2 linked regions of the Homo sapiens genome follow. The protein of the gene in region 1 purifies or fractionates together with the protein of each later gene. This does not show direct contact. Each region holds a gene or a part of one and is shown in the gene's direction. Other genes may lie near its edges.

Region 1 (4,272 bases):
CTCAGCTCACTGCAACCTCTGCCCATGACCCCACCCCATTCAAGCGATTCTCCTGCCTCAGCCTCCTGAGTAGCTGGGATTACAGGCATGCACCACCACGCCCTGCTAATTTTTTGTATTTTTAGTAAAGATGGGGTTTTGTCATGTTGGCCAGGCTGGTCTCAAACTCCTGACCTGAGGTGATCCACCTGCCTTGGCCTCCCAAAGTGTTGAGATTACAGGCGTGAGCCACCACGCCTGGCCAAATGGGTTTCTTTCTTTCTTTCTTTCTTTCTTTCTTTCTTTCTTTCTTTCTTTCTTTCTTTCTTTCTTTCTTTCTTTCTCTTTCTTTCTCTTTTTCCTTCCTTCCTTCCTTCTTTCCTTCTTTCCTTCTTTCTTTCCTTCTTTCTTTCTTTTTCTGAGACTAAATTTTGCTCTTGTTGTTCAGGCTGGAATGCAGTGGCGCAATCTCAGCTCACCACAACCTCCACCTCCCGGGTTCAAGCGATTCTCCTGCCTCAGCCTCCCGAGTAGCTGGGATTACAGGCATGTGCCACCACGCCAGACTAATTTTGTATTTTTAGTAGAAATGGGGTTTCTCCATGTTGGTCAGGCTGGTCTCGAACTCCCGACCTCAGGTGATCCACCCACCTCGGCCTCCCAAAGTGCTGGGATTATAGGTGTGAACCACTGCACCCGGCCTTGAATGGGCCCTTTTAAGTGCATTAAAGTGGAAGATGAATTGAAGCAAAGGGCCTAAACTAGGAAATTAATTATGAAGATTAAATGTGTTAATATATGTATTTTTGTTTATAAATTTTATGTATTATTACTCTGCATAGCTTTAGAAAGGTCTTTTAAAAGCCTCCTTAGTGTGCTCTCTGCTGCCCTCTGCTGCTAATTTTCAGAAATTAATTTTGATTCTGATTAATGCTCACTTTATTCTTCATAATCTCATTCAAAATTAAAGTTTGATGGTACTCTAGACATAATTTAATCCCACATTCTCAATTTACAGATGATAAGTTGAGTGTCTGAGAGGTTAAGAACATGAACTTGGGCTCTGTTTCCTGACTGCTGGTGATTTTGGACACTACTCAATTTTGTCATCTGTAAAATGAGCATAATAATAGTACCTAAATATTAGAGTTTTTTTGTGATGATCAATTAATTTAGTACATAAAAAGCACTTAGAATATTATCTGGGTTGTAGCTAGTACTATGTTAGCTATTTTATAGATCTGGCAACAACTAAACTAAAACCACTGCTAGTGACAAGATCAGAGAACTCTGGTCTCTTAAATACTAGTGCGTGCTCTCTCTCTTTCTCTTCATATATATGTGTGTGTGTGTGTGTGTGTGTGAGAGAGAGAGTATTTATGTACACACACATATATATTTTATAAAATATATACAATTCTCCATGATTTGTTAAGTGTGAAGGAAAAGACACTGGAAGACGTTTGTAGATGAGATGTTCTAGGTAACATACATATATTTATATATATACACCACATATGTATATTGCCTGAATGAGTATGAAATTAAATTTTGCCTTCAAATATAGATTTTTTTTTTTCTTTTTAGACAGAGTCTTGCTCTGTCGCCAGGCTGGAGTGCAGTGGCGCTATCTGGGCTCACTGCAATCTCCAATCTCCACCTCCTGGGTTCAAGTGATTCTCCTGCCTCAGCCTCCCGAGCAGCTGGGATTATAGGCACACGCCACTACCCCCAGCTAATTTTTGTATTTTTAGTAGAGACGGGGTTTCACCATGTTGGCCAGGATGGTCTCGAACTCCTGACCTTGTGATCCATCCACCTCGGCCTCCCAAAGTGCTGGGATTATAGGTGTGAGCCACCGTGCCCGGCCCGAATATAGATTTTTAAAATGTGACTTGTTCAATGCATCCAAAGCTCTTGTAGTCTTTACAAAGCCCTTGCTGCTGCTCCTTCCTCCTTGTACTGTTCCAGGTAGGCTCCCCATAGAAGAAGTTACAAACCTAGAAAGCTCCTCAAGCCCCCAATATAAATTCCTACTGCCTGCAAGTGGAAGGTGACTTCACTGTGGACTTTAAGTAGCTTCTCTAATGAGCTGCCTACCTGAATTTCCAATGGACAATTACACACTTGCACCCAGACAGTCTATCTCTTGTCAGGCTCAAGAAGAGCTAAGCTAAACCCATTGCTTCCTCCACAGCTCCTCCTGATCTTCCCATTTTGGTCAATGATGGTGCCATTTCCCCTACATACCCACACTCAGAGTTACTTTTGGCTCCTCTCTCTCCTTCACTTCCATGTCTGGGGGTCTTGGTCTCTCAAATGCATTCCTTCTCTTTCTTTTCTCCTACCTCCCTCCTGGTTCCTGTCCCAGTCATCTCAGGCTGGGATGAATCCAACAGCCTCCTAACTTGGGTCCTTAATACCAATCTCACTCTGCTGAAATTAATTTTGCACTTTATTGCCATATTATATCATGTGGTGAATCAGCTTCCTTACCTGCCAGAACGTTGCAGTGCCTACAGGATGAATCAAATGTACTCAGTCTTGGATGTCCCAACTTACCTCCCTGACCTGACCTTATCTCCCACTCCTCCCTCTCAGAAATCTTTTTTCCTTTTTTTTTTTTTTTTGCTGGGGACGTGTCTATCCCTAGACACTAGGATGCACTTTCTGTTTTTCCGTCATCAGACCCACCACTTTACTGGTCTGTCTTGGGTCCTACACATCAGAATGATAGGGTTCTTATTCTGCCAGAATTAAGATACCAGCAAACCTCTCAGTTGACAACCAATAGGAAAAGGGGCCCATTACTGTACTCAAAATAAAATTCTAGGCCCTTTTCCTTCATTGTTATGAAGGAGTGTGGAGATTATCAGGAGTACTTATAAAACTCATCTGCATACAATGAAAGAAGACTCTGTTAGGGTTGATTGTTTAATATGAAGAAAAATAAGATAAATAGTGGGAGACTTGGAGTGTGTCTGAATGGGGATAAGGGGTCCTAAAGGGGGGATTCGGCAAACTGGGACATTTCAAGAAAGGCTCTTAGGTGAGCATGACACTGACAAACAATGCTTGCGCCCCACCTACATTGGTGTCTGTTACTGACCCACATGAAATTGACAACACAAACCTCTTCACTTTTATTGCCCTTCTCTCCTCTGTCTGCAATGTTTTCCCTCTTTTCACTGCCATTGGAATCCTTTCTGTCTGTAGGGCCAAATAAAGGTTAACCTGTCACACAGTCATCTCTCTCTCTTCTTCACCCTTAGAATATGCAATATCTTTAACCACAAACAGCTGTACAGGAAATGCCATCTTCTTCTCCCCCCACCCCCTTAGTTACTATTTATTTATTTATTTGAGACAGAGCCTCACTCTGTCATCCAGGCTGGAGTGCAGTGGCACGATCTCGACTCACTGCAACCTCCGCCTCCCCAGTTCAAGTGATTCTCCTGCCTCAGCCTCCTGAGTAGCTGGGATTACAGGCGTCTGCCACCACGCCCGGCTAATTTATGTATTTTTTAGTAGAGATGGGGTTTCATCATATTGGCCAGGCTGGTCTCTAACTCCTGACCTCAGGTGATCCGCCCTCCTTGGCCTCCCAAAGTGCTGGGATTACAGGTGTGAGCCACCGTACCTGGCCCTTAGTTACTTTAAAATATTTATCTTTAGTTTTTATTTTAATTAAAAATTTAATCACAGTTATACTTGCACATAAATTGGGTCAAATAATTCTGAGAAATTTGTTATGAAAAACTGCTGTCCTTGACTCCTTTTCCAGAAGCAACTACTTTTATCTCCCTTAACTAATTACTTGATATTTACCATCATTTCTTTAAATAGCATGCTGTGTTGCAACTTTTGGATTTTTCAGTTTGGGGCATTATTTCTTGACTTGTCATCATGAAGAGGAGGATTTATTTCTCCTTCCTCCCCTGGCTTCACCAAGCATATACAACTTTGTCCCCTTCCTCTCACTATACAGAGTGGCCGCCTAGTCTGGACTCACAGGCAAATGCCTAGGATGATTTTTATTGGTATCACTGTACTATATGTACATTAAAATAGTATTTTATATATACATGATATTCTGCCATATATGATAAAAATATTTTATCTTTGTGTACTGACTTCATGGTCACCCTGTGGTTATATTTTAAATTGAGTTAGATCTATTTTCAGTGCTTTATATTATCATGTGCTATATTATCATGACTATATAAAAGCTATTTATAACTCAGCCATATAGTAGACCATGGGTTGTTTTTGTTTTGCTTTGTTTTTTCACAA
Region 2 (3,582 bases), on another chromosome or scaffold:
CCTCCCGAAGTGGTAGGATTACAGGCCTGAACCACCACGTCTGGCCTGTTCCCCTTTTTATAAGGACAGTCATATTGGCTTAGGGTTCACTCTTGTGATCTCATTTAATTCTAATTACCTTTAAAGACCCTATCTCCAAATACAGTCACATTCTGAGGTACTGGGAGTTATTAGGATTTCAATATATGATTTTAACAATTCAGCCCATAACAGTACTACTTAATTTTTGTGTATTTCATTTTACATCCCACAACTTTGTTAACCCTATTACAAACACGAATGTGTATGTACATACCTTCCAAATTTTTATTTACATGAACAGGCATATAATCTGCAACTAATATCAGTGTTTTCTTCCTTCCTTATCAATTCTTACACCTTTTATTTCTCTTTCTTGCCTTTCTGTACTCACTGAGACCCCGGATTCAGTGTTATATTTACAAAGTAGTAACTGGCAACCTTATCTTGTTCCTAATCATACAGAAAATGACGTCAGTGTTACATAATTTAATATTAACTGTGGGGGTTTTTTGTCATTATCATTTATCATGTAATGACAGTTCCTTTCTGTTCCTGGATTACAACAATTTTTAATTATGAATGGCAGTCATGTTCTTTCTGTATCTGCTGAGATGATTAAACCTTTTTTTCTTTTAATATGTTTACATATTGTGTTAAATTAATCTGTTTTCTAGAGCTAACTCTTGTATGCCTGGGATAAACCCAGTTTGCAAGTATTGTATTCTGTAGCACTTGCTAGATTTGATTGCTGGGTTTTGTTCAGGATTTTTGCATCCATGTTTAATGACACTGGCTTGTATTTTTCCTTCTTGTATTGCTCTAGTATGACTTCAGTAGCAAGTCTGTGCAAGCCTCATAAAATACGTTGAGGAGTCATCCCACTTTTTCTCTCCTCTAGAATAATTTCTGAAAGATTGGAATTAAACGTTCATTGAATGTTTAGCAGAACTCACATGTAAAGCCTTTTGGACATGTGGTTTTCTTTATGAGAAGATATTCAACAACTGATTGAATTTTTAACAACTATAGTATTATTCCAGTTCTTTTCTACTCTGTTGGTAAATTATACTTTTCTAGGAATTTATCCATTTCTTATGACTTAAAAATAATTGTCATGAAGTTTTTTATGACATCATCTTGCTCTTAAATTTCTGGATCATCTGCATTTTTGTTACCGTTGCCATTTCTGATAATCTTGGGGCCTTTTCTCTTTTTTCCTCAAACAATATTTCCAAACTCTGTCAGCAAAGTATTTCAAAGACCTAACTGGACTTTTTTTGTGCTGTTGTGTGTGTTTTCTATTTCCTTTATTTCTGCCAGTTATTTTCTTGTTTTTACTTTCTTTAGGTTTATACTTTGTCTAAAAATGTTTAGGTTGCTCATTAACTTTTAGCCTTTTCTAATATTTCAAGGTCATTAATTTCCTTATAAATTACAACTCGAAGCTGCATCTTAAAAATTTAGGTAAGAGGTTTTGTAATTATCATTTGGTTTTCAGTATTTTCTGAGAAGAAGTGTTCTTAACATCCCAACATATGATTTCTTTTTTTTTTTCTTTTTTTTTTTTTGAGACAGGGTCTTACCCTGTCACTTAGGCTAGAGTGCAATGGTGTGATCATGGCTCACTGCAACTTTGACCTCCCAGGCTCAGGTGATCCTCCCACTTCAGCCTCCCGGGTAGCTGGGACCACAGGCATGTGCCAGCACACCCAGCTAATTTTTTGTATTTTTTGTTGAGATGGCATTTTTCCATATTGCCCAGGGTGGTCTCAAACTCTTGGGCTCAAGCGATCTTCCTGTCTCGGCCTCCCAAAGTGCTGAGATTACAGGCATGAGCCACCATGCCTAGCCCATATGGTATTTTTCTATTTTGCTATTGATTTCTCAGTTAATTGCAGTGCTGTGAGAGGATAAATCATGGTCTATGTGATGACATCCTTTGACATTTGTTAACGCCTAATGTATGGTCAGTTTTCAAGTGTGCCTGAAAAGTATGAATGTTCTCTAACCACCAGGGACAGTAGCCATATATGCCTATTAACACAGTGCTACTCAACACAGTGTTTATCTTATCTATCCTTAGTGCTAATAGAAGACTGTCTTAAGATAAAAGATATTCAGATAATGGAAAACCCTTTGTTTTTCTTTGTATAGAGTGGTGAGGCTAAACGGCAATATAAAGGAACCTTAGACTGCTTTGTGAAGATATACCAACATGAAGGAATCAGTTCCTTTTTTCGTGGCGCCTTCTCCAATGTTCTTCGCGGTACAGGGGGTGCTTTGGTGTTGGTATTATATGATAAAATTAAAGAATTCTTTCATATTGATATTGGTGGTAGGTAATCGGGAGAGTAAATTAAGAAATACATGGATTTAACTTGTTAAACATACAAATTACATAGCTGCCATTTGCATACATTTTGATAGTGTTATTGTCTGTATTTTGTTAAAGTGCTAGTTCTGCAATAAAGCATACATTTTTTCAAGAATTTAAATACTAAAAATCAGATAAATGTGGATTTTCCTCCCACTTAGACTCAAACACATTTTAGTGTGATATTTCATTTATTATAGGTAGTATATTTTAATTTGTTAGTTTAAAATTCTTTTTATGATTAAAAATTAATCATATAATCCTAGATTAATGCTGAAATCTAGGAAATGAAAGTAGCGTCTTTTAAATTGCTATTCATTTAATATACCTGTTTTCCCATCTTTTGAAGTCATATGGTATGACATATTTCTTAAAAGCTTATCAATAGATGTCATCATATGTGTAGGCAGAAATAAGCTTTGTTCTATATCTCTTCTAAGACAGTTGTTATTACTGTGTATAATATTTACAGTATCAGCCTTTGATTATAGATGTGATCATTTAAAATTTGATAATGACTTTAGTGACATTATAAAACTGAAACTGGAAAATAAAATGGCTTATCTGCTGATGTTTATCTTTAAAATAAATAAAATCTTGCTAGTGTGAATATATCTTAGAACAAAAGGTATCCTCTTGAAAATTAGTTTGTATATTTTGTTGACAATAAAGGAAGCTTAACTGTTATAAAGGAGTCTTTTTTTCCCTGACTCTGACTTTATTAGTAAGCAGAGTATAGCAAAATTTTTGTCAGAACTGGCTTAACTAAAGAGAGAGGTATTTCTCAATGGACAGATATAAACAGCATTCCAAGGTTTTGTACGGGAGTTTGTCTTGTTTTTCAGAGCTGTTGTAGAATACAGTATATTTGAAATCCCCAAGTTTTTAACGTTCTAATGAGTAAAGGGATGTTAAGCTAGTGGGGATAAACTATAGACGGATTTTCTGAGGCTGTGAATGGGCAAAATGGGGTGGAGGAACTTCCTTATGCACAGGGACAAAGCGTATTTCAAGGACAATAATACAGACCATACTTTTAAATATATTGGTGTTATCCCTCAAGAGGAAAAAAAGTCAAACTCTAAACATCATTTCTTGCAGTGGTCAACATAATGGAGTTACAGGAACAAAATAGAAAATATTTTCCTTTCCTGCTGCACTATCAAATGGTTCAAAGAAAGATGGTT

The links. The genes of interacting proteins can lie anywhere in the genome.
Region 2: the proteins of TASL (region 1) and SLC25A31 purify together in Homo sapiens (affinity purification with mass spectrometry; one large-scale study listed by BioGRID and IntAct). This does not show direct contact.

What each region holds. Positions count from the first base shown.
Region 1 is NC_000023.11:30,567,308-30,571,579, reverse strand, and holds part of TASL (TLR adapter interacting with SLC15A4 on the lysosome), read left to right. Parts: intron 1-4,272. UniProt on the Homo sapiens protein: Innate immune adapter that mediates the recruitment and activation of IRF5 downstream of endolysosomal toll-like receptors TLR7, TLR8 and TLR9.
Region 2 is NC_000004.12:127,771,211-127,774,792, forward strand, and holds the end of SLC25A31 (ADP/ATP translocase 4), read left to right. Parts: intron 1-1,433; coding exon of another isoform or gene 1,434-1,485; intron 1,486-2,175; coding exon 2,176-2,364; 3' UTR 2,365-3,082; downstream 3,083-3,582. UniProt on the Homo sapiens protein: ADP:ATP antiporter that mediates import of ADP into the mitochondrial matrix for ATP synthesis, and export of ATP out to fuel the cell.